Linked DNA regions of Homo sapiens: region 2 is linked to region 1. Evidence: fine-mapped expression QTL. A gene starts in region 1. The other region holds a variant in brackets. All regions are shown on one strand. Distances are from middle to middle. Region 1 holds the start of CHL1-AS2 (CHL1 antisense RNA 2). Region 2 holds the start of LOC107986057 (a long non-coding RNA gene).

Region 1 (4,398 bases):
AACCAATTCATGTAATGAGATGAATTAACTTAAATGCAATAAGTATAGTATGTGCAAAATCAACTCCTCTTAGACCTACAGCTAGGCCCACGAAGTGTACAGTGTACTTATCAGCAGATAGGTTGGAGGACCTATATAACCATGAGGAATCAATAAATATCTATAGCCGTTTCTTTGAAGAAAAGGATCCGTAAGTCTACATGCAACAGATAACAATCTGGGAAACATATATTCATCATCATAGTCTTGTGCTGCAGTGAAGTGGGTACAAACATACCCTGAAAGAGATTTTAATGAGTTGCCATAGCCAGTACTCACACCCATCCAGTAATAACTATTTGTCTCCATTGATTTGCTCACAATATTCAGGAGCTTGCAAGGAATGATTATACACTACGTTCTGCCATTACTAAAGGTAAATCCACTGCAGCACTTAAGGCCATAAAATGGAAAGCCAGGGTATACATAGGCTCTGTAACCACGTTAAATTATGAAAGCCAAATGGTGGTCCCTCACAAAGAGACTGAAATTAAGACAAACCCAACTGCAACATCTGCAGGTGAAAGAGAAAACACAAAGATTTACAAAAGAAAAACTCTGGGATAAACTTTTTATTTTCTTGTCACCAAAAGTTTCCCCAAAGAGCTTCCTAAGCTTCTCTCTCCATCAATATACTGAAAAGCCAACTTCATCGGCAGTTGATCAGTTTCTCTCTTCCAATCTGCTGCAAGGCAGAGCTTCGTAGGAGTTGGACTGTGCAGTACAAATATTCATATTTTAATTAAGATTATTCTCCAAAATTAGAAAACGCAGAATTTTTACTTCAATGAAAATGCAGAGAAATGAAAATGCACCATATGTAATTAAACTGAGGATTAACTAACAGTAATGGCATCAACGACAATAACTTTTGAGTGCTTATTATGCATCAAATATGCATATGGTGTTAAATTTAAAAATCTATGGTGTTAAATTACTTGTATCATCTCATTCCAGTCTTGCAACAACCCAGTATAGAGGGTATCGATAATCTCCGTATTATTGAGAAAGGGAAACTGAGGCACGTAGTTAAATGCCTAGTCCAGAGTGACGCATCACAGTGATGGTGGAGCTGGAATTCGAAGCCACGTGGGCGTCCCGGGAGCCTCCGCCTAGAGCGAGCCCGGGGGGCCCACCAGTTACCATCGCCACGCGCACGCGCAAATCTCCCCGCGCACGGCGCGTTCCCGCGGGAGCGCGCCCTCGCGCACGCGCCTGGCAGGGCAGCCGCTCGCCGGCCCTGGGGCTGCTCCGCGGCTCCCACGAGCGGGACTGGACGCCGGCGCCCTTCGAGGAGGGGCTGAACCTGGGGCGCCCTCTCTGCCGGGCCACCCAGCCCTGCCGACGCACACCTGCCCTCCGCCGCCGGCCTCCCACCCCTTCCCCGCCCGCCTTCCCGCCCAGCAGCCCAAACGCCCACCCTGCGCTCCACCCTGCTGGCCGTCTGGGGCGGGGGTACCTGGGCCCGCGCGGCTGCTGCTCCTCCGGCCCGTGGTTTTTCGCAGGAGTTCCCCGGCCCTGCCCCTGGCTGAGACACTGTGGCTCGCAGCGAGCCCGGAGAGTGGGAACGGAGGGGCTGGCTTTCCCCAGCCTCCCGGCTCCAATCCCTGCTCCCCAAATTAATCACTTTCTCCGTGCTGCCTCCCCACGCACACTCACACTCCAAAAAAAAAAAAAAAGCGAGAGAAAGAGAGAGGCACAAAGAGGAAGAAGGGACCATCCGCGACCGGCATCTCCAGCCCCCCGGGCTCCGCTACCAGGAGCCATGGCAACCACGGCCCCCGGCGCGCCCTCTCGCCCCTCGGCGGTCTGGGGAGGTGGAGCTCTAGCCCCTCTCTGGGTTTTCGTGCTCCCCAACCCCACAACCCCACGGTCCATGGATTCCCCGCTCCAGGCTGGCGGCATTTTCGGAACCCCCCCCGGGCTGGGATCTAGAATCCTCTCCTGAGAGGAGGAGCCACACAGGGGCAGTGGACTGGGGGGGTCTGAGCCCCACACACCAGGCGGTGTCCAGGGGAGCGAGGGGCGCGGTGGGAGACAGAGGCCGGGACTGACCCCCAGACCAGCTAGACCTCGGAGCCCCACCCGAGAGAGGGCGGAGATCTACGGGGGGGTCTGGAATCCTCCTCAGAGAGCAGCGAGGGATGGGGTGGCGGAGGCTGGAAGCGGGAGGGCCAACCTACCGGCGGCCGGCGGGCGTGAGTGGGACCCGGCGGATTCGGGCGCCCGGTGTGCTCCGTCGACTGACCCCGAGCTGTCCGAATCCGGCCTCGGCCACCGGGGGCGGGGCGTGAAAAGGGGGCGTCTCCTCCCGGGTGCAGGCTGAGGGGCCCGGACCACCCCCACTGCGGACGAGGGACCCTGACCGCGCCCCGCTTCCTTTCCATAACGAGTGGACCCCTCCCGGAGCACCTTCAGCCCTTCCTCCACGGGAGACCCCCCCAGCGCCGGCACGAGAGATGCCAGCGGACCCCCACCCCTGACACACCTGCGCCGCCTCCGAAACGCGATCTGTCCGGCGCCTCCCCTCGGGCGCCTTCTCCCCCGAGCCGGCCGGGAGCCGGGACGGGGGCGCGCAGGGTCCGGTAAGCTCTGGGCGGATCCAGGGAGGGTCTCGCCGGCCGCTGCCCGCTGGTCCGCACCCGGGGCTGTCCGCGGAGGTCCCGCCCGTCCCCTCCCGCCGCTGGCTCTCTGGCCGCGGGAAGGCTGGAGCCGTTCTGGCTGGCACCGGGGTCTACGCCCTCCTGCCGGAGGCTGGCTCTCGCCTCTGCTCCCTTCCTGGGTTCTGCGCCGCCACCCCTCACCCACGCCGCTTATCTTCCCTCCCTTTGCACGCTCCCGCGGGACAGGGAGAGTTACAGGCTTCAGACTTTATCTCGTTGTGGAAAGCAAGAGACCAAGCCAAAAACTTTGGTCGTGCTTTTCAACATCTCCGGTCAAAAGAGGTAGGATCCCTGCTCGTTTATCTGCAAAAGCGACATTTAAAAGAAACGCCCCCCACCCCCTCCCCGATGGTTTCACTCGGTTCATGTTGCACACACAGGTCGCCAATCTGCTTTTCTCCCATTGCTGCGTCTTAGAGGGGTGTGGTGCCATGTACGTATTAAAAATTGTCTTCTTGCTTTCCTTCATTTAAGGGCGTGGTGGGGCTTGCTATTGAATTTACAAAATATGCTACGACCATCCGCTGTCAAATTGTGCATGCTTAAATTTACAGATCTTCTACTATCTCACAATTTTTGCCCTAATACAGAGTCTATAATGTTACCACATCGTTTCGTAACGTTTTTCCTACTTATCCTTTATTAATTCACTATTGGAGAGGAAAGCCTTCTGTACTCATATTCAGTGCAAAAAGCCAGTTCTGATGCCTTATGAATCCACAAACACATAAAAATATTTTAGGATTCCAAAATTCATATGGAAAAATTATAATTTTTAGCACTACATTTGATTTATATGCCACTTTATTTTTTTTCCATTATGGTGGTATTTTCCAAAATTTTTACAGGATACCACTTTTGAAAATCCTGTTGAATGCAAGTCCTCTTTGTTGGTAAGAGAATTATTGACTTCTAATTTTTACTCCACTAAGGCTGTGAGATTGACCTTACAGCCTCGTTTTGTTTTCATCTAGCTCATTGAACAATGAGGATATTTAGCTCCCCTCAGAGCTACCCTCAGAGTTGGATGAGCTATCCTCAGAGTTGGATGCCACCACCGGGAGCAGCAAAAGCGAAGGCAACTCATGATTCTGCCTCAGAAGCAATCGAATAAAATATTTTGAAAATGAATGAATGGACTTTTAAATTTTAATCATCGCTAACCTTGGGGCCTCGATTCTGTCAATTTGTGTGTGGGCACAGTTCTTACCAACTGCCTTGGCAAATTGTGAATGCAAGTGAGGGCAGGATTTGTCCTAAGTTTAAATTGTACTGCTGGAGTGATTTCTTTTGCCTGAGGCATCATTATTCACGTGGCATGTTTTCTAAAGTAGAAACAAAGATAGAATATTAAATAAAATTCCAACAGGGGGAAATACTCTGCCTGTAGAAAAACATTTCCAAGGTCAAGGAACCACAAGAGAACAACAAAGCGAAGTTGGTCTCAGGAGTTTACCATCTTCTGGGTGAACAAACATCAGCTGAGCAAGGGACTCGGAACTCCATTTTGGCCAGATGAACAGAGTACTCTTAAATATATAGCTCCTTCTTTCTTGGTGATTTGTTTCTTGACAATAGAATCATTATTTACAAAACAAATATTTATTGAGCAGCTACTATTTAATCAATCACTGGTCTGGGTGCTGGGCTCAGTAGGAAACTCAATAGGCATGGCCAGTAGCTTTTTAAAAAATCA
Region 2 (4,398 bases), 75 kb after region 1:
GATAAAGGGAAAAGATCCATTTGTTTCTACTTCATTTCCTCTGTCTTCTCTCTGCCTTCAATGTGGATATGATTTCTAGTAGCCATCTTGAAATTCAGAGGAGCTAAGTCTTAGGAAAAGGCCAAGAGAAAAGTGGAGGCATCATTTCTGGCAGCACTAAGCTATTGAACTGGTCCTTAATTACTATATCTCCAATTCTTACATAAGAAAAAAAAAATCTGTTTAACTAAGTCAGTGTAGTTTGACTTTTGTGTTACTTGCAGCTAAATGCATTTCAAATTCCTTCCTCCAATCTCATATAGCAAGTTTTTTTTGCATTATTATCTTAGCTACATTGCATTACATAGTAATTCTTTTAAAAATATAATTACCTTCATATGTATAAAAATAACTTCATTACCTTTGTATCCCCATCTCACAGGTACTTTGTACACGGTAGACAAAATAAAAGTTCAATAATGTACAATGGCTGAAAACGTTTCCTATTCCAAAGGATACCTAATTTGAATAGAATGAACTTACTACAAATAAGAACACTTCCTGATCTTGTATGGGTTTCCCATAGCAACCAACTCAGTGACATCACAGAAACTCAGTAAATATTTCAGTATGAGAAAGAGGTATGGGAACAATTTGCAAGGACTGAAAGGATCATTTCATTAATGCTAACCATCTCTCCACTTTATAAATAATTCGAACAAATTCAGATCTAATATATGTACATCTTTTAAAACCTTGGATCGTTTATGGATTTAAAAGCATTATACTGCAATAGGGAAGCTTTAACATCTCTACAAGATGACAAAAAGAATAAACAGTTTTACACCAGCTGCCTTGACAACTACTTTCTCTGAAAAGATTATTTTAGACCCCCAGACAAAATATTAAGCTTTAATCAGTGCTGGCCTAACACTGAATATTTTGTTGTTTTGTTTCCTCCATCTGTTTGTTATTATATGCACTATATTTTGCTGAAATTGAGACTATAAAACGACAAAAAGAAAATCTTTGTTTTTGTGGTTAAAGAATTCTTCAAAAAAATGTCTTACAGTTCAAAATGACAATTCACTATACAGGAAGGACTTACTTGCCCTAGTAAAGCCAATTTTTAGACATGACTCTAATCTTTCTTTCATCTCATCTTGCCATTTCTGAAACATGCCTGGAATAAAACTGAAAATGTGATTCCTCAGGGCTCAGATCAAGAGCCTAAGAGCAAATACTTTGTGATTCTACCTCAGGAGGAACTAATACACACTCGTGTTGTGTGTCTATGAAAATTATTGCAAGGAATCTATCACCACGACATTTTCCTTTGGAAATAAATCCAAACTCCTAGGTGTATATTTCCACATGATAGTTTTTTCTTTCTTTGATTTCAAAAGTAATACATTTTATTATGAAAAAGTAGTTAACATAATTATGCACAACTAACAACAAAATATCCCTATAACATTGCCTCCAAAGGATGGCCACAATTAGCATTTCAGTGTATTTCCTTATAGTATTTTTTCTCTGCATACATAATAATATATAGATTTTTCATCTTGTAATACAAAAGTGTTATCCAAATAGTATTCTATTAGATCTACTGTTTAATAAGCTACTTTTTAAACCTAACCATGTGTTGTGAACATTTTTCATGATATGACATATTTTTGCAAGATAATTATAGTATCTGCATAGCAGTCTGCTGTTTAGCTGTACCATAAATAATTTCATCTGTTAGATATATAGGTTACTTCAATTCTTGTTGCCAGGTTGGGCATAGTGAATATATGTTGCTTTTATTTTCTCCTCATCATCATTCCTTTTGGGGGTACTAACTACTCCCTTGCTTCTGAAGAGATATCAATCACAGTCCATTGGCCACTTCTGGCTACAAAGTCTTTGGCTTAGCTAATATCTCATCCCCTGGGAAAAGTGATTGGTCTAAAGTTAAGAAGATAACTCACAGAGGTGAAATTAGCATCTTTCCTGAGATTGATATGTAGATGATGGCAGCAGGTGAGAGGGAATACACTTTTTTCTTAATGTTGTATTCTAATTTGTGATGATTTGAGCCAGGAGTTCTCAGAAGCTTTCTTCCAGATTTTCTTAAAAGAAATGTACTAATAGTTGGGGAAAATAAGGATAAGACACTGTGGAGAGAAAGGCTGAGAAGTTTAGGAAGAGAAAAAGAATGCTGATTTTCTGGATCAAGCTGTGCCTGAAGTTCTGTGTACTGAATTTCTCAGTTCCGTTCGCCAATATACTCTTTGATTTTTTGTTGTCATTTTGTTGCTTAAAGTAGTCTGGTCGATACTTCTGATAATATCTAAGTAGCAAAATACATTAATCTGCTAGTTTTTCAAGAACAAAAAAGATTGTTATCTCTTTTTTTGGCATTGTTGTTTTGATGCACAATTAGTAACTACAATTTTTGACACTATGATGTTCTGAATTAAACCTGGGAAATACCTAGTTCATGAGTTGTATTTTTCTTATATTTACTTATTAAAATGGAAAAGGTTTTACGCCTACAGACCGTCATTTTAAGAGCCTGTTTAGTTCCTTAGGATGAGCCCAGCACATGGCTAGTGTACAATAGAAATGTAATGAGTTGATGAACAAATGATTGAATTTGCTGCATGAGGATCCCCAAGAGTTTCTTCTTGAAGGTTCATTGATTCCCTCAAGTTATGATCAA[A/G]TACTATATCAAACATTGTGAAATACACACTGTTCTCTTTGGTGCTTCAATTTTATGTAGCAGTAAGAAACTTCATTGTATTCATTGCAATTTTTCAACATGAAATGTAAGCTGAGCTTCAGACACATGAATTTTGCTCCCAAGGAAAGTGCTATAAAGTCCCACTGAGATTTGAACACAGACGATGAAACTGCTTGCTAGGTTTTTGATTTGGAATTTCAGCTATCTATGGAAGTCCTGACAGTTTGATGAAAGCACAGTTTGAAAGAGTTAGAAAGATTTTCAGCATCTTTTTTGACCGAAGGGATGATATTTAACATCTAAAGGTGGCACTTCTGGCCCCCCAAAAAAGGCATGTTCTATTTTGCTTCTCTATTGACAAGCAGTGCTTGTCATATTTTTTTCTTTTCTCCATCATACTGGGAACTCTCATGAGAGTGTTCAGCTTCTGGCTGAGTTTAGTATGAGGCAAAGAAGAAAAAAAGCACAAAATATTTAGTTTTAGTCATAATGTTTAGGTTTATTGCAACATCAGAATCGACAGAGTCACAACAAGTAATTGAGGCAGGTGTCAAAAACGGAGAGTAAACAAATGGCCAAAACAAGGAAGCTGGCAGGTATAATAAACTATTATAATGGACTATTCTACCTTTTTTTTTGCACACTGACCAACATATCTGTCAACTAAACCCATATTTTATTCCTTGCAATTAGTTTATTTGGGTATATTTCTCTCTTTCTGATGTTCTTCCTTTTTTCTGATGTTCCACTATCAGTTAGTTACACTGAGTTAAATATGCCTTTGTGATAACACCCCACTTGCAGGCTGCTATATGCGTAGGCCTGGAGAGTGCCTATGCTAAAAAGAAAACCCAACTCTAAAAAAGCTCCATTCAGCAAAGGCCAAGCAGGTGTCTACAACCTCAGAGGAAGATCATCCTTCAGCAGGGTGTGTTGTCTCCAATGGCATTGGCTAAGTGGGAACCACGGAATTCTTCTTTCTGGCAAGGGCCTTCTTCATCCCTTTTCCCCCTCAATACTAGAAGCCTCTTTATTCCATCTGCCTTGAGACCACTGGAGCTAGTCATCATGCCCCTTTCCCTGTTTAGGCTGAATGTCACAAGGTGTCCAGGTGCTTCATATTGTTGCTCATCCTCCAGATCCCCACCCCTAATTCCCATTGCCTTTTCTGACCCTTATCTCTCCCTCCCCATCTTTAATAACCTTTCATGGGGCCATATGGAGCTCTATGTCAATTCTCAGTCAACTGATATTCTCAACCTCATCAGCAAACATTCACTTCTTGCTCACACAAAATCCTTTCTCCTCTAATGGCAAATCTTTCTCTGCAGCACTCTTAGTGAGTGGTTCTTTTCTCTCCTATGGTATCATGGCATCTGGTGGCAGGACAGATGTCCTATCTCTCTCCACTGACACTTCTAGACCATTCCTGTCCAAAGCATAAACAGTCAGCATTGAATCCCATCTCATTTGACTACATATCACCCAACATTCTTCCTTATTTTTCATCCATTCTCAGGTCATTATCTCTCTTTCTTTTTTTTTTTTTTTTTTTTTTTTTTTGAGAGGGAGTCTCACTCTGTCCCCCAGGCTGGAGTGCAGTGGCACAATCTTGGCTCACTGCAACCTCCGCCTTCCGGGTTCATGCCATTCTCCTGCCTCAGCCTCCCAAGTAGCTGGGACTACAG

The links. PIP is the estimated chance that this variant, and not a neighbour inherited with it, causes the effect. A credible set is the group of variants that fine-mapping cannot tell apart.
Region 2: its variant is the best candidate, but not a certain one, in a credible set for the expression of CHL1-AS2 in left ventricle (GTEx, PIP 0.88).

The regions. Positions count from the first base shown.
Region 1 is chr3:195,193-199,590 of GRCh38, reverse strand. CHL1-AS2 (CHL1 antisense RNA 2) reads left to right here and starts at 2,250. Exons shown (of 4, transcript NR_144487.1): 1 at 2,250-2,624; 2 at 3,083-3,135; 3 at 3,551-3,595; 4 at 3,677-3,833. CHL1 (cell adhesion molecule L1 like) reads right to left here and starts at 2,828. Exons shown (of 28, transcript NM_006614.4): 1 at 2,528-2,828.
Region 2 is chr3:119,717-124,114 of GRCh38, reverse strand. LOC107986057 (a long non-coding RNA gene) reads right to left here and starts at 523. Exons shown (of 3, transcript XR_001740582.2): 1 at 401-523. The variant A/G (reference allele first, on the strand shown) is at 2,690.